Homo sapiens: one gene and its partners. The protein of the gene in region 3 interacts with the protein of the main gene of each other region in a pairwise test. Each region holds a gene or a part of one and is shown on either strand. Other genes may lie near its edges.

Evidence for each region.
Region 1: the proteins of KCNE5 (region 3) and KCNG4 come close enough for resonance energy transfer, tested with the Homo sapiens proteins (one study listed by BioGRID).
Region 2: the proteins of KCNE5 (region 3) and KCNB1 come close enough for resonance energy transfer, tested with the Homo sapiens proteins (one study listed by BioGRID).

Annotation. Positions count from the first base shown.
Region 1 is NC_000016.10:84,234,651-84,246,487, reverse strand, and holds the start of KCNG4 (voltage-gated potassium channel regulatory subunit KCNG4), read left to right. Parts: upstream 1-6,475; 5' UTR 6,476-6,818; intron 6,819-8,962; 5' UTR 8,963-9,002; coding exon 9,003-9,758; intron 9,759-11,837. UniProt on the Homo sapiens protein: Regulatory subunit of the voltage-gated potassium (Kv) channel which, when coassembled with KCNB1, modulates the kinetics parameters of the heterotetrameric channel namely the time course of activation, deactivation and inactivation and on the voltage-dependence of activation.
Region 2 is NC_000020.11:49,360,977-49,369,342, forward strand, and holds the end of KCNB1 (potassium voltage-gated channel subfamily B member 1), read right to left. Parts: 3' UTR 2,901-8,366; downstream 1-2,900. UniProt on the Homo sapiens protein: Voltage-gated potassium channel that mediates transmembrane potassium transport in excitable membranes, primarily in the brain, but also in the pancreas and cardiovascular system.
Region 3 is NC_000023.11:109,620,758-109,631,344, forward strand, and holds KCNE5 (potassium voltage-gated channel subfamily E regulatory beta subunit 5), read right to left. Parts: upstream 4,416-10,587; 5' UTR 4,264-4,415; coding exon 3,835-4,263; 3' UTR 2,943-3,834; downstream 1-2,942. UniProt on the Homo sapiens protein: Potassium channel ancillary subunit that is essential for generation of some native K(+) currents by virtue of formation of heteromeric ion channel complex with voltage-gated potassium (Kv) channel pore-forming alpha subunits.

The DNA of each region.
Region 1 (11,837 bases), on a different chromosome or scaffold from region 3:
GGCCTTGACGGCGGTGTGTATAGATTCTCCTGATTCTTTTGAACAGCTGCAGTTTTCTCTTGCCTTTATGACCATCATTTATTTAGCCAGTCCCTTAATGAGGGATATTTTGGTCATTTCCAACCCACCACTATCACAAACAACACTGTAATGTTATATACGTCTTTGTACACATGAGCAAGTATAGCTGCAAAATAAATCCCTAGACCTGTGACTGCAGGTCAGAGGAGGTCTGCATCTCTTACTTTGATCAATCGCGCCAAATTGCCCTTTAAAAGGACTGCACCCATTTACACTGCCTCCAGCAATATCTAAGCAGCTCAAATGAGCTCTTGAAAATGCCTATCTGATCACGATCCTCCTAATTGAAAGCCACCCGTCCCCATCTCTGACTGCACGGCAGAATTCCGAAGAGACATCAAAGCAACCCTATAAGTAAGGCCCCAACCCCTGAGGTTCTGACTGAGTTAAGATGTGGCCCAGTCATTGGAGATTTTTTTAAGCTCCCCAGGTGATTCTAGAATGTTCCAGGGTAGCGAACCACAGCTATAAATTCACTAGGGGTTCCCCATGCCTATTCCCACCACATAAAGTCCACGCTCCTCAGCAAAATAGAGAAGGCCTTTCATTTTCTGATGCCCACCTGCCTCTCTGCCCTTCTTCTTCGTACTTGCCACTTCATGTCCAACTCTCTGGTCCTGCCGAATCCGTTTCAGCTTCCCAGAAGCACCGTGTTCTCCAGCTCATCTGCCTTGACTCAACCTGCCCCTTCTGCCAGTACCCGCTTCTCCACCTTGCTAGCTGCTGCTCACCCCCCAAGGTTTGATTAACCAGGGATTCTATCTTTAGGAGCATCCGCTGACCTTCCTGGGGAGCAACAGTCACAGTGATGTACTAGGGGCCACAGGCACAGGCTTGCGAGAGCCGATCCTTAGCATCTCTTCCCAACTCCCTGTTCAACGATGCTGTTGTTGGCTCGACACTGGCCATGACAGGGGTACTTACGCCACAGCAACTGGCAACCACCACGCGTCAGGAGCTTTTTTCTTTCCCCCAGAAAGCCAGCTATTATCAATTAATATCACGCAGGTGTTACAAAGCTCCTCTGCACGCTCATGGCAGCCTGGGATTTCATCGACTGCAGCTCCTCTCATGCTGTTATCAGGAGACTTTCAGACCCTGTAATAATAGATAGCACTGAAGATGGTGAAAATAATAATGGCTAGCACTTACTGAGTATATGTGTGTGCCGGACACTGAAATGAAGGCCTTACGTGCATGTGTTCATTTGCTCCTTACGACAACCCTGAGAGGCGAGGACTATCCTGACCTCTGCTGTCCCAAGGCACAGAGAGGAAAGGTGACTTGCCTGAGGTCACACAGCCAGTGAGCAACATAGCCATGACAGTTGATGGTCAATGTATGTCCTGTGGAGGGAGGGATCCTAACTTCTGCAAGCAGGTGCTGGGTGGCCTGGCTAGATAGACAAGGCAGGGCCTTATCCTCAGCAAATTGCAAATATCCTTGATGGTTTGTGACTGGCCTATCCCCTCCTTCAGGCAGGAATGTATTAGTTAGCTATGGCTGCTATAACAAAAGCCATCAACTTAGTGGCTTAAAATAATGCAAATTTAATATCTTACAGTTCTGGAGGCCAGAAGTCTAAAATGAGTCTTACGGCGCTAAAATCCAGGTATCTGCAGGGCCATGTTCCCTCCTGGAGGCTCCAGGGGAGAATTTATTCATTGTCTTTTCCAGCTTTTAGAGGTCACCTGCATTCCCTGGCTCATTGCCCCTTTCTCCATCTTCAAAGCCAGCAGTGTCTGATTGAGTGCTTCCTCACATCACTCTCTCACACTCTCTTTTCTGCCTCCCTCTTCCACATTTAAGGACCCATGACGACATTGGGCCCACCTGCTGAATTCAGGATACTCTCACTACTTAAGATCAGCTGATGAGCACCCTTAATTCCATCTGCAACCTTAATTCCCCTTTGCCATGTCAAGTAACACACGTGCAGCTTCAGGAACTGGGACATAGACATCTTCTGAGGCTGATATTCTGCCTCTCACAGGGCTCCCCCTTTTCTTGCTCCATTTTGTGGGACAAAGACAACTCCCTCTTCTGAAGGACACTTCAAGAAAGAGCCAGGCCTTGGTGACATCTGACTAAGAAGGTAAGAGCTAGATGTGATCACATCCACCAATTTGGGGACTTGGGGTCCTCCTACCAAAACAGTACAGAGAGATATGCTCAGTCTAATTTTGATGATGATGATGGTTGAGGTATTAGGTACAGCAGGGCGAGTTCTATGGGCTTTACAGAAGTTAACTCTGGGTCAATGGGAACTCTTCTTCTTCCTGTGGCTTCCTCTGCTACTCCTCCTCACCCATAGCCCAATGCAGCCACCAGCCCCACTTCTACATGATGTTACAAGGCCAGCACCCACTACCATGCCAAAGTCTCCATGTCTTTGGGTCCAAATTCTCAGGAGAGAGAGAGAGCAAATTTGATTGGTTCATCTCAGCCTATGGGTGAAGCCCTCTTAGGGTAGGTGTCCTTCCTTTGTCTGATTGGACAAAAAAATCTTGGTTCTATCTGATTGGCTGGGGCCAGGAGGCGGTGTACTGGCTATAAATACATCTGTGATAGGCAGAATAATGCCCCCCCAACCCTGCAAAATGCCCATGCAACCTGTAAATATGGAAATAAGTTCCTTTGCATGGCAAAAGGGACTTTGCAGTTGTGATTAAGAATCTTAAGACTGGAAGACAATCCCAAATTATCCAGGGGGCTCAATGTAATCACAAGTGTCCTTACAAGGGAAAGAGGAGGAGGAGAATCAGAGATGGAGATAAGAGCACAGAAGCAGAGGTCGGAGCGATGTAACTGCAGGCTTTGAAGATGGAGAAGGGGCCACAAGTCAGGGGATGCAGGAGGCCTCTAGGAGCTGGAGAGGGTACGGAAACGGAGTCTGCCCTAGAGCCTCCGGAAAAATCCCAGTCCTGCCAACACCTTGACTTTATCCCTGTAAGACCCCTTTTAGACTTCTGGCCTCCAGAACTGTAAGAGAATACATTTGCTTTTTTTTTTTTTTTTTTTTTTCTGAGAAGGAGTCTAGCTCTGTCACCAGGCTGGAGTGCAGTGGCGTGATCTCGGCTCACTGCAACCTCCGCCTCCTGGGTTCAAGTGATTCTCCTGCCTCAGCCTCCCAAGTAGCTGGGATTACAGGCACGCACCGCCACACCCAGCTAATTTTTGTATTTTTAGTAGAGACGAGGTTTCACCATGTTGTCCAGGATAGTCTCGATCTCCTGACCTCGTGATCCACCCACCTTGGCCTCCCAAAGTGCTGAGATTACAGGCAGAAACCACCGCACCCAACCAAATTTGCATTATTTAAAGCTTCTACATTGGTGTTATTTATTACTGCAGCCATAAGAAGCTCACACGTAGTCACTATGGCTCATCCCTTGATCAGAAAAATGTGGCAGAAGACATCTGGGTGGGGCATTTCTACGTATGCCTCGAGTTCCAGGCTTCCAGGACGCCAGGAGGATGGGAGATGGGTTACTGGCCCTGATTAGCTGAGGTCAAGTGTCCATACCCGGGAGGGACACTGGGTACAAGAAGACAGTAGCACTAAGCCAAAAGGTGGCTGGGACTTCACAAAGACCTGAAGAAGGGCTTAGTGGATGCCCTGGGGAAAGGGCTGACGGGACTGAACACCAGGCTGAGGGAAAAGTCCTACAACCTGGGCAAAGTGTATTGACAGAAGGCACTGAGCTGTGGAAAGAGCACTGGACTGTGAGTCCACACTGAGCCTGGCAGTGCCATCCACTGGCTGGGAGGGCTCAGGCAGGGCTCTCCCCTTCACTGGGTCTGAGTTCCTCTATAGGTAAAATGAGGGACCTGCACTAGGTCAGTAAATCAAGCCTTCTTTTAGAAAAGTTTTTGAACAGCAGACTCCTGTATTTACCTAAATCTTTCTTGGGTAATTTGGGGAAAAAAAATTGCTAAGATGGTAATCATAGCCGGGCACGGTAGCTCACACCTGTAATCCCAGCACTTTGGGAGGCAGAGGCAGGTGGATCACTTGAAGCCAGGAGATCAAGACCAGCCTGGCCAACATGGGGAAACCCTGTCTTTACTAAAAAAACAAAAATTAGCTGGGTATGGTGGCAGGTGCCTGTAATCCCAGCTACTCAGGAGGCTGAGGATCAAGAATTGCTCGAACCCGGAGACGGAGGCTCCAGTGAACCAAGATCTTGCCACTTCACTCCAGCCTGGGCAACAGAGCGAGACTCCATCTCAAAAAAAAAAAAAAAAAAAAAAAAGATAATCATAATAATAGCAAGCATTTGAATAGATAGGACTCACTTTTGTGACAGGCAGTCTTCTAAGAGCCTTATCAATGTAAATTGATTTGTTCAAAACTCACAACAAATCGATAGATGCTGTCATCTTCAGGTCACAGACAAAAAAATTTAAGGCACAGAGAGGTTAAGAAATTTGCTCAAGGTCACCCAGCAGGGAATTGGTAAATTCTTGATTTGAACCCATATACTCAGGATCCAGAGAGAACTGAGAGGAATGGGGATAAGTTAGGGGAGATTTAACCAGAAAGGCTAAATCCAGACAAATAAGAAACAGCTGAGAGAGGTGGGGAGACAGCTGGGGTAGGAGGAGGAATCATGAGCTGGAAAGACAATTCTGAAGACTCTTCTAAGAGCACCATTGGAGCAGCTGTGGGGTCTGAGGAACACGGGAGTCAGTGGAAGGAGGGAAGGAAACTTCTCCATTACTGGCAGGTGCTCTGGGATCTCTTTGAGTGGCTCTGTGTGGACACTGGACCATGCTGGGCCACAGCCTTTATTGGGGTTACACTTACAGTCTTATGGAGACAGATCAGAGTGCAGCTGCCATGGCTGAGGTAGCAGGTCCAGGGGTTCATCCTCCCCGTTGTCACTGCCCCAGGCCAGGCCCCTCAATCATTTCTGCAGAGCCCTAAGGCTTCAAGCAATACCATTTGAAAACCGCAATACCAGATGGACCTCCATTCAGTCAGTTCTCTTCTCTGCTTGGATTCGTTCCCATTGCCAAGGCCACAGAGAGCCCACCTAGGTCAGCAGCACCTGTCATCCCCTTGCAGGCAGCTGTGGAAGGCTCACCCTCTAATCTCCCTCACTCCTGGATCCTCCCATCAAAACTCAAGCGTCTGTTAAGTGATGGTTCTTTTTTTTTTTTTTTTTTTTTGAGACAGAGTCTCACTTTGTCACCCAGGCTGGAGTGTAGTGGCGCGACCTCAGCTCACTGCAACCTCCGCCTCCCGGATTCAAGCAATTCTCCTGCCTCAGCCTCCCGAGTAGCTGGGATTACAGGCACCCGCCACCATGCCCAGCTAATTTTTGTATTTTTAGTAGAGACAGGGTTTCAGTACGTTGGCCAGGCTGGTCTCAAACTCCTGACCTTGTGATCTGCCCGCCTCCGCCTCCAAAGTTCTGGGATGACAGCTGTGAGCCACCACACCCGGCCTAAGTGATGGTTCTAACCAGCAAGATGACCTTGAGCAAGCCTCTTCTCAGGGCCTCAACTATCAAATGCAGTGAAGATAACACATTCAGAAGCCAAGAGCCTGGGCTGCAAAACCTCTTAAGAAAGTGAAGAACAGTCAACGTGTAGTGAGCAACTACAAGATGCTGGTTTTACAATTGCAGCCATCGCTGGTTTCACTGTCCTCATTTGACTGAGAAACCCAAGGCCCAGAGAGGGGAAGTGACTGACCAAGAACACACAGCCAGGCAGTGCAGAGTCCAAGTTCACACCCAGGCCCTGGACTGATGCCTCTTCCTTTTCACCCACCCAACCATCCAACCAGCACAGGAGCTTGCACTTATGGTTCTGACCTTCCCTGAACCCTCTCTCATTCCCATGTTTTAGAGACAAGACAATTGAGGCTCAGAAGCACTAACTCACCTGGCCAAGGTCACCCAGCCTTTCACATAGGAGCCAGGATCCAGGCATGTGTGTGAATTCCAAGCTCGGAGCTCTTCCTATTGCTGTTCTGTAACACAGCCCCCCTGACTCCCACCCAGCGCTCAGAGCCTGGGCTTCTGTCTGAACCTGTCCCAGGCCTGGGCTGCTTAAAAGCAGCAAAAAGTTCCTCCTGCAGCTTCAACTTGAGCCTGTCACCATCATCAGCATACCCCGAGAGACTCTGGGGTGCCTGGGACAGGTAGCTGCAGATGCCTCCGGCCCCAAGTTGCCCTCTGCTCCTCCCGAGTTGTGCTCCTCCATGCCAGAGGAGGGAGGACAGCTCCCCTTGCCTCCTAGGCGGTTGGCAGAGTGGCAGCGGCTGCTGCTTCTTCCTGCTGCTGGCTGATGGAGAGATTATTTCTAAGCCCTTCCCATTCCACACCCCCCCACACTGGCTGTCCCCGTGGGACTTGAAGTGCAGAGTCCGCTGCTCAACCAGGACAGCTGCCCTGGCTCCCTCCCAGCAAGAACCCCCAGACCCTCATCTCTCATAAGGAAAGGGACTTCTGGGTCCTTTAAAAAAAAAAAAAAATCCCACCTCAATCCCCCAGGGCTCTCCTGCAGCTGCTGGAGAGAGAGATGCAGAATGAATGAACTTCTGGTTTCTGGAGGAGGCACGGGAAGAAAGATTGGAAACTGACTCTGCTAGAAACTGCTGTTTTGGGGATTTTTTTCTTCCCCTTCATCTCCACCAGAAACCTGTCCCTTCCCTGGGCACCAAGAGATGGGCTCCCCTTGCCTGGCAGAGAAACAGCTGGAAACTGGCTCCCTGAGACAAGAAGGTGAGTTAAACTGGAGGGGAAGAGTTACTGCTTGCTGTAGGGTGGGCGGGGGCCAGGGGGAAGTTGACGCTGTTAGACATCCTTGGCAAAAGTGCTGGTTTGAGTGAATTCCTTTCCCGTGCTCCAGAAGGAGCTGTTTGCCAGCTGTTTGGAGAGCCGTAGATGGCAAAATTGGGTTTATTCAGTGAATGCAGAAAGGGCAGTTTTCAGGTTCTGGAAGGAGCCCCAGGCTGGGGGACAGAGTGCTGGGTTGGATTCGGATTTGCTGTGTGACCTTGGACAAGTTACTTCCGCTCGCTGGGTCTTGGTTTTTGCACTGGGAAAATGAGGAAGCTTGCAAAGGGCTCCCCAGATTTCAAAATACTCTTCTCTCTGCAGGCTCCTCATCCTCCTCTGGCCATTCCCTGTGAGCAAAGTAATGCATTCAGAGCAACAGAATGTTGTGTAGGGAGCAAGAGTGTGAAATAGGTTACGATTCACTCTCCACTATCCACCGGAATCCAACCGGCTCTGAAATTGAGAGGAACTTTGATTTCCGTTCCACTGCCGAGTTTTTCTCTTGATTGGAGTGGAGTGCATCTGAAAATGTAAGCTTATAGATGCTTTGGAAATGGCTTTGGCTAGAATGAATAGCATAAGAAATGGTTGCAGGATCTGAAGGTGAGAAATATTATGAAAAGGACTTTTTAAATATGTGAAGTGGCTAAATCTAAAACACTCACACTAAGTCAAGCACCTCATATAGGTCTGAAATGGAGACAGCATTAGAGGCCCCGTCATTTTTTTTTGTTTTTTTCTTTTTGAGATGGAGTCTCGCTCTGTTGTCCAGGCTGGAGTGCAATGGCGCAATCTCGGCTTACTGCAGCCTCCGCCTCCCGGGTTCAAGCGATTCTCCTGCCTCAGCCTCCCGAGTAGCTGGGACTACAGGTACATGCCACCTTGCCTAGCTAATTTTTGTATTTTTAGTAGATACAGGGTTTCATTGGCCAGGCTGGTCTCGAACTCCTGACCTCAGATGATCTGCCTGCCTCTGCCTCGCAAAGTGCTGGGATTACAGGCATGAACCACTGCGGCTGGAGGCCCCTTCATTCTGCACATAAAAGCCTGCGGGCCCAGAGAGGGGGAGTAACTGGCTGGAGGTCACACAGCAAGGATGGCTGAGGCAAGCACGCAACGAACATGGAGGAGTACTGTGATTGCAAGTACGCAATGCTCCTCCGTCCCCTTAGCAAAGGCCTCCCCAAATGGGGAAGCGACCAAGAGGGATTAAGCGAGACTGGTGGAGTTCCTCCTGAGACCTAGATGCTTGGATGCTCGCTAAGCATAGTCACATTCCTGGGCTACTCGAACCTTTAATAACAGACCCTCGCTGAACCTTCCTGATGTCAGGTGCTTGCTAAACAGTAGGCAAGACACGCAAACCTTCCGTGCGTCAGCCTCCTTATCTATAAAGTGGAGCTCTTATGTCTACTTCATGAGGTTGTTGAGGTGAGTTAGGGGAAGCCAGGCATGTCAGAAGCATCTAGAAGTATTATTAATACACACTTTCTTGTATATTACTGCATATAACCCTTGCCATGCCCTACGATGTGGGCACTCAGACTGCCCCAGTCATACAGATAAAGCAAAGGACTCAGAGACACTGAGTAACCCACCTGTGCTGGCAGTCTGTAAGGGATCGGTCCCTGCCAGTGAACCTGAGAGCCTACATTCTTAAGCTCTATTTTTACTACCTGTACCTTGCAAGATTAGTATGAGTCTTGTCATTTGAATGAATGATGCTGAGATCAGAGAGGTTAAGCCACATACCTGAGACCACAGAGCCCAGAAGTGGCACCGCTCCGACTTGTCCAGCTCAGGACTGAATTACTCAAGCCCCCATCCGTGCAACGTCTATTCTGGAGACATCCTTCTGAGATGTCGGTAGAGGTTCCACCAGGGAAGGGTTTTTTTCACTGATGTATCCCAAGCACATAGTAGGTGCTCAATAAATATGTGTTGAACTAAAGGTTAAAAGAACAAGCCATGCAGATGCAGTCACAGGAAAGCACACGTAAGAACATCTGCAGTCGTGACATCCAGGACTCTTTGCCCCAAGACTGATTTCCCTTCCTTTTGCTTGCTCTTTGTCCCTTGGGTGTCAGACTGGTAAACCCAGCGCTTCCTACCTGGTGGTCTTCAGCAATGCCCATGCCTTCCAGAGACGGGGGCCTGCATCCCAGACACCACCACTATGGTTCCCACAGCCCTTGGAGTCAGCTCCTGTCCAGCCCCATGGAGACGCCGTCCATCAAGGGCCTTTACTACCGGAGGGTGCGGAAGGTGGGTGCCCTGGACGCCTCCCCAGTGGACCTGAAGAAGGAGATCCTGATCAACGTGGGGGGCAGGAGGTATCTCCTCCCCTGGAGCACACTGGACCGGTTCCCGCTGAGCCGCCTGAGCAAACTCAGGCTCTGTCGGAGCTACGAGGAGATCGTGCAGCTCTGCGATGATTACGACGAGGACAGCCAGGAGTTCTTCTTCGACAGGAGCCCCAGCGCCTTCGGGGTGATCGTGAGCTTCCTGGCGGCCGGGAAGCTGGTGCTTCTGCAGGAGATGTGCGCGCTGTCCTTCCAGGAGGAGCTGGCCTACTGGGGCATCGAGGAGGCCCACCTGGAGAGGTGCTGCCTGCGGAAGCTGCTGAGGAAGCTGGAGGAGCTGGAGGAGCTGGCCAAGCTGCACAGGGAGGACGTACTGAGGCAGCAGAGGGAGACCCGCCGCCCCGCCTCGCACTCCTCGCGCTGGGGCCTGTGCATGAACCGGCTGCGCGAGATGGTGGAAAACCCGCAGTCCGGGCTGCCCGGGAAGGTCTTCGCTTGCCTCTCCATCCTCTTCGTGGCCACCACAGCCGTCAGCCTGTGTGTCAGCACCATGCCCGACCTCAGGGCAGAGGAGGACCAGGTGAGCGGCCTCTGATGGCATTCACGGCTCCATCCCGCAGGGTGCCTGGGCGGAGATGTCTTTTAGGGGCCCAAGAAAATGTCTTCAGATCTTAAAATAAGAAGAAAAAAATGAATATTATCCAACATGGGTTATATTCATTATTAGGCCATCAGTCATAAAAGATAATTTTCCATCTTTTTTTTTTTTATTGGAGTCCTGCAAAGGCAAAAGTGCCTAAGGCTCACCGTGAAAATCATTACGTGGCCCTCAGCCATGCGTGGACTCAGTGGGCCACACAGACACAGTGTCACCTCTCCCAGCTCTCCCGAGTCTGTGACTACAGGCAAATCACGCCACCTCCTCTCTGAGCCTGTCTCCCACTCCGTGAAATGGGTAACATCACCTCGAAGGTTTACTCACCCAGTGAACTCAACATGTGTTTACTGAACACCACTCTGTGCTAAGCCCTAGAGCAGGTCAAAAACATAAAATCCCTGCCTTCTTGAGCTAACATTCTCCTGGGCATCCCCACTCCATTTTCAGATGAGGAAACTGAGGCATGGGCCATTTATTTTCCTCGGAGCTCCACAGTAAGGATGCCAATGATGCAAAGGTCCCCGGCCTCAGTTTCCCTGCAGTGCTCAGTGTCTGGGCCAGTCTCACTGGATGGGAAACTCACAGATGAGCTGATCTGTAAGTCACTCTGCCCCAGGAGGCCAGAGTAAAAAGTGCTGCTTGCCCACACCTTCGTCCCCTTTGCAGGGAGTTACAGGAGACCCCGAGACACCCTCCCTCCACTCGGGAGCCAGATGGTCTGAGAAGTGAAATAAGAACCTAGCATTTGGTTGAGAGGGTTATTGGAAAGCTTCAAACAGAGAATTAGATTGTTTCCTGATTTAAAAAATCACTCCTCTCCAGCACCGAGCTCCCCCAGGGCTGCCCATCATCTTAATGTTTGGAGCTTGCCTTGTAATCAACAGAGAGAGAAACTAAACACATACGTAAGATGGTGCTTGCTCTATTTGGCTCCTAACAGTTGCCAGCCCACCTAAGTTCTCTTCGCTTAAAGATATGTCCCAGGGCAAGACAACAGGATCAGAGAACTTGCCAGATAGAAAAGACTTAAATGGAGAACCAGCCCATGCCTCACAGACAGTAGGATCCCAGTAAATATGGGTTGAATAAAATGTGTCTTGTCCAACCTACAAAAGTTTGGCCCTAAAAAAACCCACAAAATATTTGGACCTTTAAACAGCTTGTTTTCCCATGGAGAAGATGACAATGCCAATCATAGGCATTTTTTCATTCTACAGCATAAAAACATGAGATTTAAGAGCCTGCTTGTTCACAGAAATATTTATGTGTGGACTCTGCAGTACAAAGATTAAGACAAAACAAGTGACCTCCCTACCCCATTTCTTAAGGGTGCCCTGATCCCAGTTAATAAAGAAAGGCCCCTGGATGCTCACAAGCCTGTTCCTCTTACAGATTTCCAGAGAAGGGAGAAATTGTGTAGGAGCCAGGATTTCGGTTGCGCAGACGGCCAAGATCTTTTCAAAACCTAATGCTTTGAAAATTACGCAGGGTATGAACCCAGGCCTGGCTTAACAGTGACTCAGGAAATCAAATTAGAGGGGAGAGGTGGGCCCGCAGACCTGCGCAGCCAAAGTTTCAGCCGAGGATCAGGCAGCCACGTCTCCTCCTGGGACAAGAGAGATTTATGCCCGGGCCCAGCCACAATATCTTTATGCTTTCTCCTTAGTGAAAGCATCTTTGTGTGTGTGCCCAGAGACAGGCTGAGGTGCTGCCCAGAGAGTGTCTGTGTTTCCGTTTAGATAATAATTCAGAGAGCAGGGAGGCTGAGGACGGGGCAGTCTTTGTTCTCCCAAGACGGTGACCTTACATTTACGTAAAAGGATGATGTCCTCTTCCTGGACACACGTGCTTTGTATTCCTTATTTGCCCTCAGGGAATGTCAATCTGAGAGGGACCAGCTGCTTCTGGGGACAGGCAGTGCCCATTGAGTTTGGGGCCAGTGTCCTGTAAATTGACCCTGATACCATCCACGCTGAAGAATTAATGTCACGATGGGTGGGG
Region 2 (8,366 bases), on a different chromosome or scaffold from region 3:
CTTACTATTTGTATGGGGTAAAATCAAAGCAAAACAAAACAACACACGCACGCTACACATCGGTTATATGTATGTGTGTGTGTGTGTGTGTGTGTGTGTGTGTGTGTGTGTGTTTGCAAAAATGATCTCTGGAAGGATACGTGAGAAACTGGCGGCCTCTAGGGACAGGGGGACAGGGGTCCAGGGGTATAAGGGAAATTTCACTTTTCATTGCATCTTTTGGATTTGAGATTTTGTGCCTCTTCTCAACTGGAGGTGATGTCCCCCAGGGGACATCTAGCAATTTCTGGAGACATTTTTGGTTGTTGCAACTGGGGGGAGGTATTACTGGCATCTGGTGAGTAGAGGTCAGAGATGTTGCTAAACACCCTGCAGTGCCCAGGGCAGACCCCACAACAGAGCAAGAGCTGGCCCTAAATGTCAGTAGTGCTGAATTTGAGAAGGTTTGATCTATTAAAAAACATAATAAGGCTGGGTGTGTTGGCTCATGCCTGTAATCCCAGCACTTTGGGAGAGCAAGGCGGGTGGATCACCTGAGGCCGGGAGTTTGAGACCAGCCTGGCCAACATGGTGAAACCCCCTCTCTACCAAAAATACAAAAATTAGCCAGGTGTGGTGGCGGGTGCTTGTAATCCCAGCTACAGGAGGCAGGAGAATTGCTTGAACCTGGGAGACAGAGATTGCAGTGAGCCGAGACCGTGCCACTGCACTCCAGCCTGGGCGACAGAGCAAAACTCAGTCTCAAGAAAGAAAGAAGAAAGAAAGAAAGAGAGAGAGAGAGCAAGAGAGAGAGAGAGAGAAAGAGAGAGAGAGAGAAAGAGAGAAAGAAAGAAAGAATAGAAGTTTTTTTTTTTTCAGGATGGTCTTTATTCTGAGGTTGTATATTTTATGGGTTTGATATATCCTTTGTTTTACTAAGATAATATATAGTACATGATAGTCATTTTTTCCACATCTTTACTTGGCAAAATAAAATGTCAGCAAGCCTTATACACTTCTCTAAGCTGAATAAAAAATTATCCGGGCATGGTGGTAGGTACTTGTAGTCCCAGCTACTTGGAAGGCTGAGGCAAAAGGGTGGCTTGTGTCCAGGATTTCGAGGCTGCAGTGAGCTAAGACTGCACCACTGTTCCCCAGCCTGGGTGTCAGAGTGAGACCACATCTCTAGACAAATAAGAATAAATTTTTTTTTTTTACTGGGCTATGAAATCCTAAAGTCTGGAAACTACCCTTTTCACTCAATGGGCTTTTGAAAGGTAATGATTTTAAAATATGTCCACAAAATATTTGATCCTTTTTCCCCAAGAGGTAGAATTACCTCTCTCTAAGTGTGAACCAGATTTGGTGACTCACTGCTAACAAATAGAATTTGGTGCGAGTGATGGTTTCTGATTTCTGAGACTAGGCCACAAGACGCATTGTGCCTTTCTCCTTACCCCTCTCTCTTGGACCACTGCCCCTGGGGGATGCCAGCTTCCATGCTGTGAGGATATTCAAGAGCCCTATGGAGAAGTCCACATGGTGAGCAACTGAGGCCTCCTGCCAACAGCCAGTAAGGAACTGAGGCCTCCTCAGCCAACTTAGAGGCAGGTCTTCCATCCCAGTCAAGCAGAGGACTGCAGCTGGTGTCTTGATTGCAACCTTGTGAGAGACCCCTAGCCAGAACCACTCAGCTAAAGATGCTCCTGAATTCCTGACCCACAAAAACCATGAGATAATAAATGGTTCAACTTGCTAGAGTTTGGGGGGTAATTTGTTACACAGCAGTAGATAAATACAGAAGGCTGGGCACAGTGGCTCATGCCTGTAATCTCTGTACTTTGAGAGGCTGAGGTGGGTGTATCACTTGAGGCCAGGAGTTCAAGACCAGCCTGGCCAACATGGCAAAACCCTGTCTCTATTAAAAAATACAAAAAATTAGCCAGGTGTGGTGGCACATGCCTGTAATCCTAGCTACTCTGGAGGCTGAGTCACGAGAATTGCTTGAACTCGGCAGGTGGAGGCTGCAGCGAGCAGAGATTGTGCCACTGCACTCCATCCTGGGCAACAGAGTGAGACTATGTTTCAAAAACAACAACAAAAAACCTCCCAAAAACAAATATAGAAATCTTTGAGCCCTATCAGTAAGGCAGAGATCACAGAAAGGTAGCCTATGGGCTCTGGTCTGCCTACAGATATATTTCCTTTGGCCAGTACAGGACTACAAAAAATGGAATTAATCACTAATGTTTATTTATTTTTATTTTTTATTTATTTTATCTTTTAGCAGAGACAGGATTTCATCATGCTGGCCAGGTTGGTCTCGAACTCCGCCTTGGCCTCCCAAAGTCCTGGGATTTCAGTTGTGAGCCACATGCCCAGCCATAGTTGCTAACATTTAAAAGTTGGGTATTTCCTTTAAAAATCCAGATTTCTGACTTCTCTTAGAAAGATCTAATATTGCTGGGCCCACATCCCTATGGGGTAACAACCAGCTGGAGATGAATGGTGTTCACCCCTTTAGACAGGGTGTGTGTTCTGTTTTTTATCACACTCACCACCACCCCCTTAAGTCTCTTAGTTAAGTTGCTTTACTCATTTATGTTACCTGCTCTGCCCCAGTAGTCATTTGAGCTTATGCCTTCTATTGTGAGACAGTTTTTAATGAGATGCCCAGGCATAGTTGACATGAGAACTAAATGACCAGAGTTGGAACTTTGATTCATGAATATCATGTAGGATGGGTTACCACTGGGTTGCATAGTGGGGGTGAAAAGCCAGTTATATTTTCATGTCCTCCCTCTTCTGGGGGGAAGAGAGAAAGCTGATGCCGCCTGGAGACAGGATTCCTGATTCAAGTCCCCTTACAGCGCTTCCCATCTCGCCTCCCTGTGCCCTCCAAAAAATAAACTCCTCCAGGCTTGTTTTTTCCATACCTTTTATTGAACTCTGCAGACTTCATTAAGGGACCATTTGCTTAGAAATTCTTAAACATTTGGACATATTTTACAAGACAAGACAGCAGCTGGAGGTCACACAAAGATCACAATTTCATCTCACCACATGCATAAAAAGACACTGGGATTTGTGTGTGTGTGTGTGTGTGTGTGTGTGCGTGTGTGTTGCGCACATGCGCAATGCTTATTTTCACCTTTACAGGAAGGACTAGAGACATTAACTGACGAGAGATGAATAGGACCCACGAATGCACCCCCGAGAAAAGAGTGGCTGAGGACATTGGTCATTTATGGCTAATGTGATTGGCTTGGCCCCTGTCAAGGGTGAGGTGATCAGAATGGCTTTACTGGCAGAAAAGCCCCAACCTCACACGACGGGTTCCTGGGAGAGACAGGGTCTTAGCTGATGGGATCTGGGGGCATACTATCATGACGGCTTTGGGGCTCAGAAAAAAAGATCTTCGGCTCTAAAAGCTGGAGGGCAGGCTGGCCTTAATATCCAGCTGGACTCCCATGGCTCAGGGAATGCAATCCAGTTTCCAGATGTTGGCTCCTATGTTTCTGCCCCAGGAAGTCCCAGACCAAAGGAAGTCCCAACTTCGAACCCTTGGCTTAGTCCATTGGAAAACCACTTGGTGGTCCCCCCCATGGGTCGTGTGTGAGCTAAAATAGAACATGAGGCTGAGAAATGCAGGGTAGGGGAAGAGGAAGGAGGGCAGAGCTGCTCTGTGGGCCCCCAGGAAGTGTGGCTCTGAGAGGGCTGTGGCCCTTATCAGCTTGGGGCCTACAAGCATCAAATTGAGATGTCATCTTGAGTCAAAGAAAGATGACCTTGATGGGGCAGTTATGGGTTTCAGTGGGAGAGGGGCTCCTCATTTTTCTTCTCTTCACAGTTAGGTAGGGATTCATTAACTCCCCCATTCACTCACACATTCACGCATCCAGTCATCCACTCAGAGGCCAACCAGTCACACATTCACTCACTCACAAAAACACAGGTTGGATGACCATCATGTGCCAGCGGCATAGGTTGGGGATAACCCTGAGTTCCTGGTGCAGAAAATAAGATTCTCAGTTTTTGACCTTGGATTGAGAAGGACCTATGAAATCAAGATAGACCTGGAGAATCCTCCCTGTCCCCACCCACTCAGGCACACTCAGCTCAACCAAGAGGGAGGCCCAAACCCCAGTGAAGCCCAAGGGGCAGAGCCAAGCTGTGGATATGTCAGAGTTTCTTGGGCATCTTCTCTGCTGCCTGCCTCTTTCCAATCTTGGTTCAGATCAGGGAAGCAGGAAGTATGGGAAGATCCCTGCATGGCCCCTTGAGGGCATCCTAATGGGACGGAATTGGGAGTTTCTTATATTTTCATGAAATATCCTATTTTTGTCTCCTTGTGTTGTTGCAACTTGAGTGATTCTGCAGGGCAGAGCCTCCAGTGAGGAGTTGGGAGGAATCTTGAAAACTGGTTTTTATTTTATTTTGGTTTCAGAGGAAGGCGGCTGCTCATTCTACCCATCCAAACATATCATCCTGCCCAACCTCATACTAAAACAACCAAAGACAAACCAGTCTTCGGTTCACCCTGAGGTTGAAGTCTCACTTTCTCCCAATCCACCATACATAAACCCTCTCTTGTCAAATGCTTTCCTTAGAGAATGCAGTATGCAGGATGATTTGGGATGGAGGCCACAGCTGCAGGAGAGTGGCATTCTGCTTGGAGGCAGCCAAGAGCCTGGTTTTGCTGTGAAACTGGATTAAAAGCTGCCTTTCTCTTTTGACCCTTCTGGATTTTTTTCATTGACGGGGACTTTCAAAGGTCTTGAGTGGGGTCTCTTATTTGATTTACCAAAAAAACAAGCCCTTTTGGAATGGAGCCATTTGCTATTGCCTGGGAAGTTGTTCATTGTGGGGATGGCTAGTGGGGAACAGATATCATTGCATCTTTTATACAGAAAGCCCCAGGCTCATGAGGGCACAGGAGCTGGGCGGAGGGGCTGAAGCACCATAAGACAGCCAGCCAGGGATGGGGGACAGCGTGGATTGCTCCTTGGCTGGCCTGGGGAAGGGTAGCATGAGTCTCATCCCAATGTGGTGCCTGGTAGGCCACTGGGGATGGGTTGGATTGGTGACTGACAGTCATTAAAATGTTCCAAGACGGAGCCGGAAGGAAGCAGACTTGTCTCTTGGACACCCCCTCTGAGAGCTCCAAAGCCCAGAAGTTGCATTCCTGCTAATTGTGCTGCATGCCTTTGCCTCAGTGGCTTGAGCTTATATCCAGAGTGTTGAAACCACCTACACACACACACACACACACACACACACACACACACACACACACTCCAAGAAACAAAGAGGAATTTCTGTGGTTGTTCAGCCCAGTTTCCATGCAATGCTAGGGCCCCTCTGCAATGCCCATTTTTTACACCATCTAGCCAGCCTCTCTTTAAACACCTGTGATATAAGGGAGCTCACTGTCCACCATGGCATTGAGCTCCATGGTCAGACAACCCAGCCTGTTAGGAGGGCTTCCTTAATTTGAGCTGCAATTGACCCCATCCCTTTCATACAATAGAAATTTTCGGAGAACTTGCATACAGCCAGCTGGCAGCTAAGTTTTTTTCTTCAGGTGCACTGCCCCACTCCACCCCATCCTGGCCAGCCTTTAGGAGATCTTTTCAGGATCTTTGGAGGGAGGAACAGAGAATTAGGTTTATAAGTGAAGATGAGGGTTCCCTCGATTAACAGAGCCCTACCCAAATTCAAGTTGGCATTTGGGGTAGTTCAGGAGAAATTCTAGGTTAAGATAAAATCAGGGAGAGTGGATGGAAATGCAAACTATATAACCTCTTTCTTGATGAAAACAGCAACAGCCATAGGCAACAGTGTTTGCTTATCTGGGCATCAAACCCAGGAAACTACTGGCAGACTTTTTTTTGTTTTGTTTTTTTGCTTTTGTGCAGAGGAAAAAAAAATCTTGTCTGTTTTATTTGACTCTGGTTCAAACCAGACTATCAGAGGTTTTCGGGGTGGGAGAACTCTGATCAGGGTCATAGTCCAGAATAATAAAATTCATATTTGAGTTGGCTTCCTCTTGGGAGTTATCTGATGGGATGGCTCACTGCCATCTGAGGGTCCCAGTTTGGCTCAAATTTCTGATTCTAGGCAGAGCCCCAAGCCCTGCAGCTGACAGTGAGGTGGGTGGTATACCAAAACCTAAACGAATGCAAGTTGGAGATTATCTGGGCTTTCTTCATCTTCCTGCATGAGTTGACGGATGGAGAATCACTTTCTGCTGAAGATCCTGCCTAGTGAGATGTCCTCCGCCCACCCAGGACTGAAAACTGCCTCTGGAATTAATTATCAGGACAGTCCAAAAACTCCCCCAGGCGTGGATAGGTGGAAGCTGGAAAACTGCCCCTGTCCTTGCCACACACCTCCTGCTCTATGGAGCCAGGCAGCTGGCAAGGGAAGGGGAGATGAGCTAGCAGATTCGGGGACATCTCTTCTCAGGGTTTGGCTGCAAGGGTGTCTGGCCACTGTTTTTTGGTGAAGCTGTTAGAAATGGATTGAAATGGACTGGGTGCAGTGGTGGCTCACACCTGTAATCCTAGCACTGGGAGGCCGAGGCAGGCAGATCACCTGAGGTCAGGAGTTCAAGACCAGCCTGGCCAACATGGAGAAACTCTGCCTCTACTAAAAATACAAAAATTAGCTGGGCGTGATGGTGCGCTCTTGTAATCCCAGTTACTCAGGAGGCTGAGACATGAGAATCACTTGAACCTGGGTGGAGGAGGTTGCAGTGAGCCGAGATTGCGCCATTGCACTGCAGCCTGGGCAACAGAGCAAGACTTTGTCTCAAAATAATAATAACAAAAAAATAAATAAATAAACAGATCGAAACAAGGAACTGATAAACAAGTTGGTGAGATCGGAGGCCCAGCATGTTCTTGTGAGGTTCACGAGAACCTGAAAAACCTCTGACCTTCAGCTCTGATTGATGTTACAGGCCGACAGGGTGCTGGACATGTGGGAGCAGCCCAGCCAGGAGGGACTCACATGTGTTCTGGATCTCAGAAATGCCAGTGATGAGTTTGCTTGCATGAGATTTTTGGTTCCAAGATCTCTGGGGATGAGAAAACTCAGTCCCTTCAGATCCCTAAAGGGGTGTGGGATATAAGTGAAACCAGCCCACATCCCATCCTGATTTTGAGGGCCATCTGTAGCTCTGCTTCCCTGGGTCTCATTCCTGCATTCATGCCCTGGATTCTTAAGAACAACGAATGGGAGAAACACACAGAAATGAATGAGGAAAGTCACAGCATTGACAGAGTCCAGGCCTAGTGTCAAGAAATGCCTACACAAGGAAGTCAAACCCCAAAGTCTTTCCCCACCCTCAAGAAATCAGAATCAAAAGGAAGAAAACCCAAACAGCCCAAGGGACAATGGTAGGAACTGCAAAAGACCAGAAAACATCAGCTACGATAATGACCAACAATGAAACTCCTAAGATATTGTTCTGTATTACAAAAGAAGAAATTAGACTCAATTGCCCTATTATAAATTTGCTAAAAATACATATATATATATATTTTATCTGAACAGAAAAATAGACTACTCTGAGATGCGTGGACATTCTATGACATAGTCGCGCATCAGATACTTCTAGAGCCAGAAAAATGGCAACAGAAAATGCAGAGGTAACTCTTATTTCTGGGTGTAGCCAGGACTGGTTTGGGTTGCCTGGGCTGAGTGACATGAAAGCATTTGGATGCTGTCCTATAAGCAGTGATAGGTGAGGAAACATCAGCTCGGGGCTGGAAGCTTTCCATTGTCCTGCCGGGGTCTCAGGGGAGCCCCTTCTCCCTCCTGCCCACTCTGCAGCTACAGAAAAAGTCCTTTCCCAAAGAAGCATGTCCGGAGGCTTTTTGCCTTGCTCTCTTTTGATTCAAAGTTACTTGAATTGAGGCTGAAAAAAAGCCTGGGGTATTGTTACTTGAGATTAGTTGGTAGAGAAATAAGAATAGGAGAGAGATTAGCGATAGAGACCTGGCTTTAGTGGCTCTTGTCCGTGGTGAATTTTAAATATCCCCTTGTCCATGGAACTAGACACTCCAGCTGGGACTGGAGCAAGACAGAAATATACAATAGTTACAAATATCAACAATACATTACAGTTTTACAGAAGAGAATACTGTTTTGTTTTTCTCCTTAGAAACATGGATCTTATTAGGAGAAAGGGCAGAGACGAGGCTACAGTTACCAAGACACATGGAGAAGCTGGAAGTCAGTTTGAAAAAGTTTGTATCACCAGCAGTTTTCAGGGGCAAGCTGGGTGGGTTAAAAGAAATGGCCTCCTCAGGATTTTGTTGTTTTTCCTTCTTACTCTTCTTCCTTCTTGATCCCCAGTCCTTTGGAGAAAGGGACTTCAC
Region 3 (10,587 bases):
TATTATCTCACTTGATCCTCAAATCCCCACAGCTGTAGAGACTGGGGCCCTGAGAGGTTAAGCAGCTCATTCTGAGAAACAAAGCTGGTTAATTGGCAAAGCCTGAGCTGGACCCAAGTTCTCCTGATTTCTGGTCCTATGCTCTCTCCACATCATGGTATATTCGCTTTAGCTGGCAGGCAAGATTGTTTGGAAAGCAGCCCAGACCCCTTTTTTTGTTGCTGATGATACAAGTTATGTGCAGACCTTGGGTTTATAAAAGCAATGACAAATTGAAAAAGAGAAGATGGTAACTACAAACAAACAAAAGACCCCACTTATATCCTTCTAGAAAAGTAAAATTGACACACAGAATTGTGTCTGTAATAGAAGAAAAGCTTTCATTTCTTTTCGCACTGTCGATAAGTAATTCCAGACATTGAAACTCAAAACATCCCCTAGTTCCTCTGCAGAAAGCCTCAAGTTACAAGTCAGGAAGCAAAGGTCTTTTGCTTCTTTATTATTTTGGAGTGAAGATCTGAACCTGAGTTGAAACAGGATCTGGTTATGCAGAGAGGAGAAATAGACTGCTTGGTGGAGTGAAAAAAAGAATCATTCTATTAGAATGTTTAACATCTTTAAAATCACATTAAGGACAAAGCTAACATTTTCCCAACTTGTATAGTCAGCTATTGCTATTCAGGGATACATTATCAAAACTGGGGGTTGGCCAAGCACCTAGTTTTTCTTTCTTCTCCCTATGTTTTGCTGACCACAATATGATCACTTCAATGCTGTTAACACCTCCACTGTCTGGTAAAAGTTGAGTGTCCAGACTTCTGAAAAACTTCATTATCTGGGAGACAGTTGAAAGTCTGAGAGTATTTGAAAAAAGCCACTAGAAAGTAAATTAAATCACTCTTCCCAGCCCACCTCACTTTTCTGACCAGGAGGGTTCTATAGCTACTCTCGCTACATGTTCTTCATGGGTACCCTAAGTCATCATAAAAAGGTTAAAATGTTTTTAAAAGCAGGAACATTTTCCATGGGATTTGTTTTCCACAGCTGGCACATTAATGTGTATTATGAGCACTGTCCTAACTGCTCCCAGCTTCTTTTATTTTTGGCAATATATTCTTTTAAATGTCTATGGGAAAATGGTACAAATGTGTTTACAAAATTTCAACACCTGAAGCAGTGATTATGCTTCATTATCAAAATAACCTTGAGGCCGGGCGTGGTGGCTCACGCCTGTAATCCCAACATTTTGGGAGGCCAAGGTGCGCAGATCACTTGAGGTCAGGAGTTTGAGACCAGCCTGGCCAACATGATGAATCCCCGTCTCTACTAAAAAAAAAAAAAAAAAAAAATTAGCCAGCGTGGTGGCGCAGGCTTTAGCCCTGCTACTCGGGAGGCTGAGGCAAGAGGATCGCTTGAACCTGGGAGGCAGAGGTTGCAGTGAGCCAAGATCACGACACTGCACTCCAGCCTGGGTGACAGAGCAAGACTCCGTCTCAATTTAAAAAATTAATAATAATAACCTTGAGTCCCCATTATGCCAGATAAATGAGTGACATTGTTTTACTTAGAATACAGGACTGAAGACCGCCCCGTCACATGTCCTCAGCATTGCTGTATATTGTGCCCTTCCTCCACATCCTCCCCAGGCCTCCCTGCCTGGCTGAAATGGCTCACACAGCTTCCCTTCTCTTTCTGTCATCGTCTTGGACTGCTGCCCAATCCCTGGCCCTCACCTTCAGGGGTGACCTTATGGCTGGAACGAGGACTGGAGAAGAGCCAATGGGGCAAGGCCAGTATAGCTTCAATGAGTGAATCCTGGAAATAAAAGTAAGTTCACTTAACTTATTAACAGTTCCAATAAAATGCTAGATGGGCTGGAAGGTAAGACCCAATGCCTTGAATGAGGTTTGTGTGTTATCAATGCATTTAAGTGACTGGTAATATATTTGTCCTGCTATCATTATCAGAGAACCCAGCTATATTTAAGCAAATTGGCTTACTTCTAAGAGGTGATTTTATGTGTGGTTGATGAAGCCCAAACAGCCATCATCAGATATAAGCATTTCAGCTGTAAGCAGGGAAGTTTCTGACAACCTTCTTGAGACAAGGAGAATAAATCAATACAACACACACCTCTAACTTTACCCATCATTGGTTAAGATTGCTCAGTTCAAGAATTTTCTCTTTGACTTCAGATTTACACTATTTGGTGGCTTCCTTGTCTTTTAATAAGCCACTTCAAAAAAGTTATTGGCTAGGTGCAGTGGCTCACACCTGTAATCCCAGCACTTTGGGAGGCCGAGACAGGCGGATCACTTGAGGTCAGGAGTTTGAGAACCTCCTGGCCAACATGGTGAAACCCCCCGTCTCTACTAAAAATACAAAAATTAACTGGGCATGATGGGGCACATCTGTAATCCCAGCTACTCAGGAGGCTACTTGGGAGGCTGAGGCAGGAGAATCGCTTGAACCCAGGAGGCAGAGGCTTCAGTAAGCCTTGATTGTGCCACTGTACTCCAGCCTGGGTGACACAGTGAGACTCTGTCTCAAAAAAAGTAAAATAAAAACAATTATTAAGGTGGCTTCTAAAAATTAGGTTTGATAATAGCTAAAAGGGATGGGCCTTAAAGGTTTTTTAAAGTGCATCCTGAAAGACTGCATTGTGATCTTTGAAAGTGCTTCAGAAATAAGAAAAAAGGAGGGATAAGTAATAAAGTAGGTATAACTTTTGAAACACTTGAAAAAACAACCCATTTAGCCATATAAACATTTTCTTCACCCATAATCACACATATCAAATTGGAACTGGTTACATAGATATAAATATCACAACCACCCAACCCCCAAATCCAAACATCATTTCCAAAAGCAAAAGAAAAAGGATTCCTTCTCCATATGGTACTGGGTCTTAAGGCTGGAATCTCTGAGAGAAGAGTCTTGCGTTATTGTTTAAACAACCTTTATTACCTGCCTCTGACATTCCCCAGGGTTACAGAGCAGGGGGCATCTGAGCCTCAAGTTCCACGGATGAAGCAGACACTGCAATAACAACTGAATCAATAGAGGAGAGGCATTTGGAAGTACTGGGGTGATACACCCAGTAATGGTAATCCTCAGCAGAAGATGGCATAGCTACCAAAAATCAGGCGTTACCACTGGGATGAAAACTGGGGAGGCAAGAAAATCATACGGTTGGAGTCATAGATCATTTCCCTCCCCGTTGAGCACTCCTCCCCCTTCCGTCCCCCATTAAGTTCATTCTATCCCACAGACTGGTCCTAGTGTCCTGCTAGCTCCCTGCTGAAAGAGAGAGGGAGGGAAAAGATGTCTGAGGTCTCTTCATTTCCTTTGTCTCTGTCCCTAAGGCAACTGGAAGCTGGAGCTGCTGCAGTCGGCCTGGCAAGCCCGTTGGCTCTGCAGAGTGAGCAGTCCCTGGCAGCCCCTGGAGCAGCTGCCAGTTAGACGGCCCAGAGTTCTGATAGAATGCATTGCTTCAGTTCAGTGCCAAGTGTTGGACGTGTTGGATTCAGTTCCCAGAGGGCTGGAGCGTGCTGTCAGGGCTGTCTGAAGACAAGAGAGCAGAGGCAGTTTAGTGCAGTTGGATGTGCGGGGTAGGGGTGGAGGCGCAGGGGTGAAGAGGGAGAAACTGGCCCGAATGGGTAAGGTGGTGCTTCTCCTTCCAGGGCCTTCCAGACAAGGTCTCCTGGCCTCTCACCATTATCTGGGCCTCAGATGAGGCGAACCCTGGAAGGGAGTTGGGGGTGGAAGGTGGGAGGCGCGCCCAGGGATGAGCGAGATGAGGAGGGCGCGAACCAGCAATCTGGGGCTGTGGTTTTAGACCCGCTCAGCGCCCTGGGCGAGGGCAGGCAGCCCCTCGGAGGCAAGCTGGCGGCGGCCCTCGGCCTGGGAGCCCGCGGCAGCCTCGGCGTCGGCGGTCAGGGCGCCTCCCGGGGCCCATTCGTGCTCGGCGCAAGCCTGGGACGGCTCGTCCTTGGCCTCGACGAGCTTACGGGAGCGGGTGTAGGCCAGGATGAGGCCTCCGGCCAAGCAGGCGTAGAAGATCATGATGAGCAGGATGTAGAGATAGGCGTCGTCGCCCTTGGCGCTGGTCACCTCGCGGCCCACGAAAGGGTCAGGCACGACCCCCATGCCCATGCTGGGACGAGGGCCAGCGCCCAAGCCGCTGGCATTACCCCGGTGGTGCAGCTCGAGCAACAGGCGGCTCAGAAGGGTTCGCAGCCGCTGGCTCTCGCTGCAGTTCATGGCTTTCGGGGAGTGACACGGCGGCTCCAGGACGCTGCTGACCTTTCCCCCTGGGCGAGGGGAAGCGAGCTAGCGAGCGGGCCGGCCGGCGGGCAGGGCTCAGCAGCGGAAACAGCGGTAGCACCCAGCTCTCCGGCGAGCGCGCAGTGGCTGGGGGCGCCGACGGCGGGGCCTCCTTATTCCCTCACTCCCGCCCCTCCTCCCCTTCCCCACCACGCCCCCTCCGGCCCGCGGCCGCCTCTTCCCAGGCTCTGGCTGTCTCGCTGCTCCAGGGAAAGGGGACAGCTGGTGGGGGGAGGAGAAGGGGACAAGAGTGGGGGCGAGGCTGGGAGACGGGCGGAGGGGGCGGGGGCTCGGAATGCGCGAGGCCCCAGGCAGCAGACGCTGGCAGGGCAGCTTGCTGGGGCCAAGCCTGGACCCTGGGCTGCGGAAGAGAATTCCTTCCAAGTTCTGGCCACCTGCCCTGCAGGCCAGGCTTTGGCCCAGATACAGCATTTGGCCCCCTAAGGCAGCTCTGCCTTGGGGCGCTCAAGGGAGAGGGCAGACGCCTTTCCGCAGCAGAGACCCCTTGTCCACATTTTATGGAAGTTACTCCCATATACAGGGACCCAGGCCTATCTTTCTAGTCCTCATTCCTTTCCTTTTCCCCCCGCCCCCCTTTTCACCCCCCTCCCACCTTGTCGGAGGAGAGCATCTTATTCAGAAGATGCTCAGGCTGAATTTGGTGACTGAGTGCTCAGGCACCTGCTAGAAGGCCAAGGCAGAGTAGAACTCCCTGGTTATCCAAAATGGTTTCTGGTGATATAAGTGATATTACACCTTCTTGGAAGCACCCCTGCTCTGATGTCCTATGACACTTTTTGAAAAGTCAACACATCTTAGCACATGAATGTACTATTCATAATGGGAGCCTGTTTCCCATGGGTAAGTAAGCCATCTTCCCAGAAGTGAAACCAAGTTCTTCCAATAAGAGTAGCATGCACATTTTAAAAGGCCCTTTGACTACACTCTGTGGATATCTCGGGATCTGAAAAGTGCCAGTTCTAGAGAATATGCTCACCCTACTCCCAGTTAGGCCAGCAAACAGCTGTGTGCCTCTCTAGACTTGGTAACAGGTCTAGGCCCTAATGGCTTTTAGGGCAGCCATTTTTTTCTCAAAGGCTGTCTTTTTTTAGGGGAAAACAAGGCACCAAGACAAAGATCAGGCCAGATATGTTAAATTGGAAACAGACTGAGCTTCACAAAGGAAAAGGGTTGGTTTGTAGATGGTGGGGTAGAAAAAATGAGGTAGTGCTGGCTAGGTCTGGTTGTCCATAGTTGCCAAATGAGAGCAGAAAGCAAGAAAAGTGTATGACCTTAGGCACACCTTGAAAATAATGCTGCCTGTTCAAGACCGTTCAGTCCAGGGACCATTCAATCTATAGGTGCCATGGGTTAAAAAAGGAAGGTTTTCCGATGCCTCTTCCCCAACCGTTCTTCAGCCCACCATCCACCCAGGGGCTGTAGCCTTCTGTGTGTTCAGGTGAGGTTGGCACCAAACTGTATCCAGGGTCTCAAACAGAGCCTTGCTTCACAGCCTCTAAACAGGCCTCAGAGACATTCCACATGACCCTGACACTGGCTCCCTTCTAATCACCTTGCCTCAATATTCTCACCTCAGAGGGCCTCAGGAAAGAATTGTTAAAGCAACTTGGCAGGATGAATGCCAGAGGACACAGCCAGAGAATTTTCAAAGCACTGCTAACCTAGTGATATGACTGTTGAGCTAAAAAGACTTCTCTTATCTGTTAAAACAGGAGTCCCCAACCTCCCAGGCTGCTGGACCTTGGCCTGTTAGGAACCAGCCGCACAGAAAGAGGTGAGCAGAGGGCAAGTGAGCATTATCGCCTGAGCTACACCTCCTGTCAGATCAGCAGTGGCATTAGAGTCTCAGAAGAGCTCAAACCGTATTGTGAACTGCGCATGCCATGGATCTACAATTGCATGCTCTTTATGAGAATCTAATGCCTGATGATCTGAAGTGAAACAGTTTCATCCTGAAACTATCCACCCCTCCCCAGTGTCCATGAAAAAAATTGTCTTCCACAAAACCAGTCTCTGGTGCCAAAAAGGTTGAGGACTGCTGTGTTAACATATACCTAGAAATAGCTAGGGTTTTTTTTTTTTTTTTTGAGAGGAAAGGAGGAAGAAACCCCTTTACTGTAACATACAAATAATCATTTAAACTTGTTTTCTAATTTCAACAGCCTTATGAGCTAATAGGATTCTCATTTTCCAAAGAGGAAACTGAGGTTCAGACTGGTTAAGTAGCAGGACTGGAATTATAAAGTTTGACCTTCTTCTTCTCAGTCCTCACACATTACTTGTGTCAAATGGGTGGTATTCATGAGCTACCTCCATTTTCCCACCTCTCCCTCCTCTTGAACCTTCTAGAGTCCAGTGCTTTCTGCCAAAACTACTTTCTATAAGTCAGTTCACCAGTGACCTCCGGGTCAAATTCAGGGGTCTCTGCTCCCTTTGCATCTTTGACCTCGAGGATGAATTTGAAACCATCAACCACCCACTCCTTCCTGTAACTGTCCTACCCTTGGCTCTTGTGGCATTGCATTCTCAAATTTCTCTTCTTATCTCTCTGACCCACCATTCTCTGCCTCCTTTGCTGGCTCCCCTTCTTTCCTCCTCCCATTAACTGTTGGAATCCCCAAAGACTCAGTCCTCAGCTATTCTCTCTCAACACCCATTTCCTTGAAGAGTGTCTCTTACATGGTTTCACCTACCACTTGGCATATATTTAGCCAAATTTGAATCTCTAGCTCTGATTCTTGGTAGCATGTCTCAGATCCCTCTGCTCCTTCCTTTCTGGTTTTATTGCCACAAGCTTAATCCATGTTCTCATTACCTCAGGTCAAATATGCAAACAGAGAATCTCCTGGCTTACAGCTGAATCTATCATGTTATGGTTAGAATAATTCTCCAACACCACTTCTATCAATTCAGCCCTATGTTCAGAAACCCAGGAGTTGTTACTCATTGATTCTTTAACAGAGTTTAGTCTTCTGTGGTGGAACTTAAGTTCTCACCACCAATAGACACCATCTTCTCCCCTTTGAATTTGAAAAACAGCATCTTCCTGGAGTTCCTCTGCAATACTCTGTGCATTTTGCCTTCCTCAAAATTCGTTGACTGAAAGAAGCCTTGCTCTATGCCCCTGTTTGTGCTTTCAGATTCTTCACAATGCACCCTTCTGAGCTTTACTTTGCAGCATTCAATGCAGAAATCTTGGAAAACACAAAAAAGCAACAAGGAAAATTTTGGAAATCTTGGAAAACACAAAAAAGCGACAAGAGAAAAGAACGAAAAATTATCAATGGTGCATACTCATGACTCTCTCTCTCAAATCTCTCTCTCTCTCTCTCTCTCATGTTTCATGGCCTTTTTCCCTTAAAAACATACTGTAAATTTTTCCATGTCATTTACTATTTCTCCATAGCGTTATTTTTTGTTGTTGTTTTTGTTTTTTTTAGAGTAGATCACTTACAAATTTTATTTTTTAAAGAACATCTTTTCCCCAGCCACAGTATAGTTATAAGCTAAGAATAATTTCCAATATTGCACAATGAATGCATCCAGATCCTGCAATATTGATCAAAAGAGTGGATTAAAATGGAATATGATAGCAATTTCATGGAAGTCTCCCTTTCTAAATACTGACTCCTTAGTGTTATTTTATTGTCTACACAGTACTCCAGACTATGGATCTACCATAACTTATTTAACTTTGCCATTTATTGTAATATTTCTGTTATTTTCATGTTTTGCTATTAAAATAATGTTTTAATAAACACAACGCTACTTCTAGTTTTATTGAAAGAAATCACTACCAGAGAGAAGTCAACCTACTAATTTATAGAAGAATGGCATGGGGAGGGATAGATGTGTAAAAGCGGGTGGAAATAGAAACGGAGAATAGTCATAAAATTTAAAAAGGCCCAGCACTCCAAAAAAAACAACAGGTGTGGGGTGGAGGGGATCCTGGCTTTCTTTTCACACTAGGGGCTGATGGGCATCCTTTAAATCTCAGTTCCAGGCCAGCCTGGAATGGCTGAGATGCTAACCCCTTTCCCTACCACACTTAATGAAACTGCAAATCCACCAGATGGGCACTGGTTCTCATTCCTCACCACCCCTCCACCCCCATTTTCCACGAGCCCCATACCTGTCAAATAATCATCTGTTTATCCATCACCTGGAACTCATTTCCAAAATGGTAATCAAGGGTGTTGACAAAGGGAAGTAATTTACAATCATGTATTTAGACTTTCAAAGAGTCTCGGGAAAGGTTCTCTTCCATGCCAAGTTTGTTTTAAAAGTACAATTGAGGCGCCATGGATAGGAAATGCTTTCCCCATTCCTTGAGACTGTGAGTGCTTCCTGCCAACAGTGCAGCTCTATGGAAGTTGGTTGAATTGAACTGAGTTGAGTTTGGCTAGTTGCCAAAGGACAGACACAGATGGTAAGCACTGTCGGAGTCCAGAAGGCTGGCAAAGCCACAGTGGGCTCTAAAGGAGAGAAAGAAAGAAGGCTTCATGAGGCACCAACTAAAGACTGAGAAGGAATCATTCATTCATTCATTCATTCATTCAACAAATATTTATTACATGTTACTTTGTGTGAAGCACTGTGCTGGGTCCTAGAGACACATCGGTGAGCAAGTCACATCGGTGAACAGTCTGTGCCTTTATAACTCTCACAGACAACTTCTTTGTGAACTGGGGACAAATAGGGAGTGCCAGGATGTGGAGCTGGGTAAGTAGTGGGCAGGACGACCAGCCAGAATTTGGAGAGAACTGAGACTCTGGGCCCAATCTCTAAGCACTAGAGTCCAAAGCCTTGTTTGGAAAAAGGAAGACTCCAGGTGGTCTGAGCTCACTGTCCCAGGCTATGCTGCAAGCTTCTCTACCTCCTCCTAGCAGCACAATCTTGAGGGTATGGTTTGCCATAAGCCACCACAGTAGGTCTGTTCTCAAAAGACTGATGAGAATAAATTAGACGGTTCCTTAATCCAACTGGGGCTTCTCAGTTTTTCCATGGGAATATACACAGCATTTCAGACTAACTGGGGTTTGATAAAGATCACAATATTTGTAGGTTGGAATGGGCCTCAGGAGCTTCAAATGCCTTACTTAGAGACTTCTTGGAGATCTTCGTGGGCTTGTGCTGATATCCTCCTATATTCAGGCCACATACTGGAGCATCAAATTTGGTCCCTGATTTCATTTATCAAGTGTCTAGCATATGCCAGGCATATTACATACATTATACTAATTAACCCTATAACAACCTTATGAGGTGGGCAGGTATGGATTCAACAGCAGTATATCTTCAATGCTGGTCAATCAGAATGGACTAACAAACCATCAGAATAGATTTTGACTGTGAACAACCAGTATGGCCTTACAGAGCCACAACATCCTTGGGCAAAGAAGTAGGACAGAGGCACAGACTAAATGGCTTCCCATTTCCCAGGGGATCAAACCAAGATCTCATCTCCTTAGGCTTTGGGGCTGTCCTGGTCATTCTGAACCTCTCTTTATGGATGCTTCCAGCTGCTCCCGTTGCTCATTGCAGGTACCTGAAAAGCTCCCTTGCCTGCCAACCCCCGTAAAGCAATGGCATCTATCACACCTGCCCCTTTCTCCCAGTAAATTCCTAAAGATGTCACTCCTTGGCTCAAAATTCTTGAATGGGTCCACTAGACTTCCAAATGATCACCTTACTGTGGCCTTCAAGACTCTCTGTGCTCCGGCCTGAAGATGCTGTCCAACCCTACTTACAGCACTAATTACCCAAAATGTCTTCAATGCCACACACCTTCTCAACTAGATGAAATCTCACTGTCCTTAGCAATCTCATAGCGTAGAATAATAGTGACGGATGGGCTCATCAGATGGCCCCTACAGACCTCATGAGGGCAGGTGCTGTGTTCTTCCTCTTTGTACCCCTCACCATGCCTGGCACAGTGCCTGGCACATAATATGTGCTCAGGAAATTTTTACCTAGGTCTGAGGTCTGCCTTCCCGTAATGAAACTTACCAACTTTGAAAAAGATTCACTCTGTGGGGACTGTGAAACTTTGAAGTTACATTTTTCCAAAAAAAAGTATATATTGTGTAAAATTTCAAACATATAGCGACATTGACAGAATTTTACAGAGGATATCTAGTAACCACCTAGATTCTACCACTAATATTTTCCTATACTGGCTTTATTCATCCCTCACCTATCCACTCCTCCCTCTATCTATTTGTCTATTCATTATCTTTT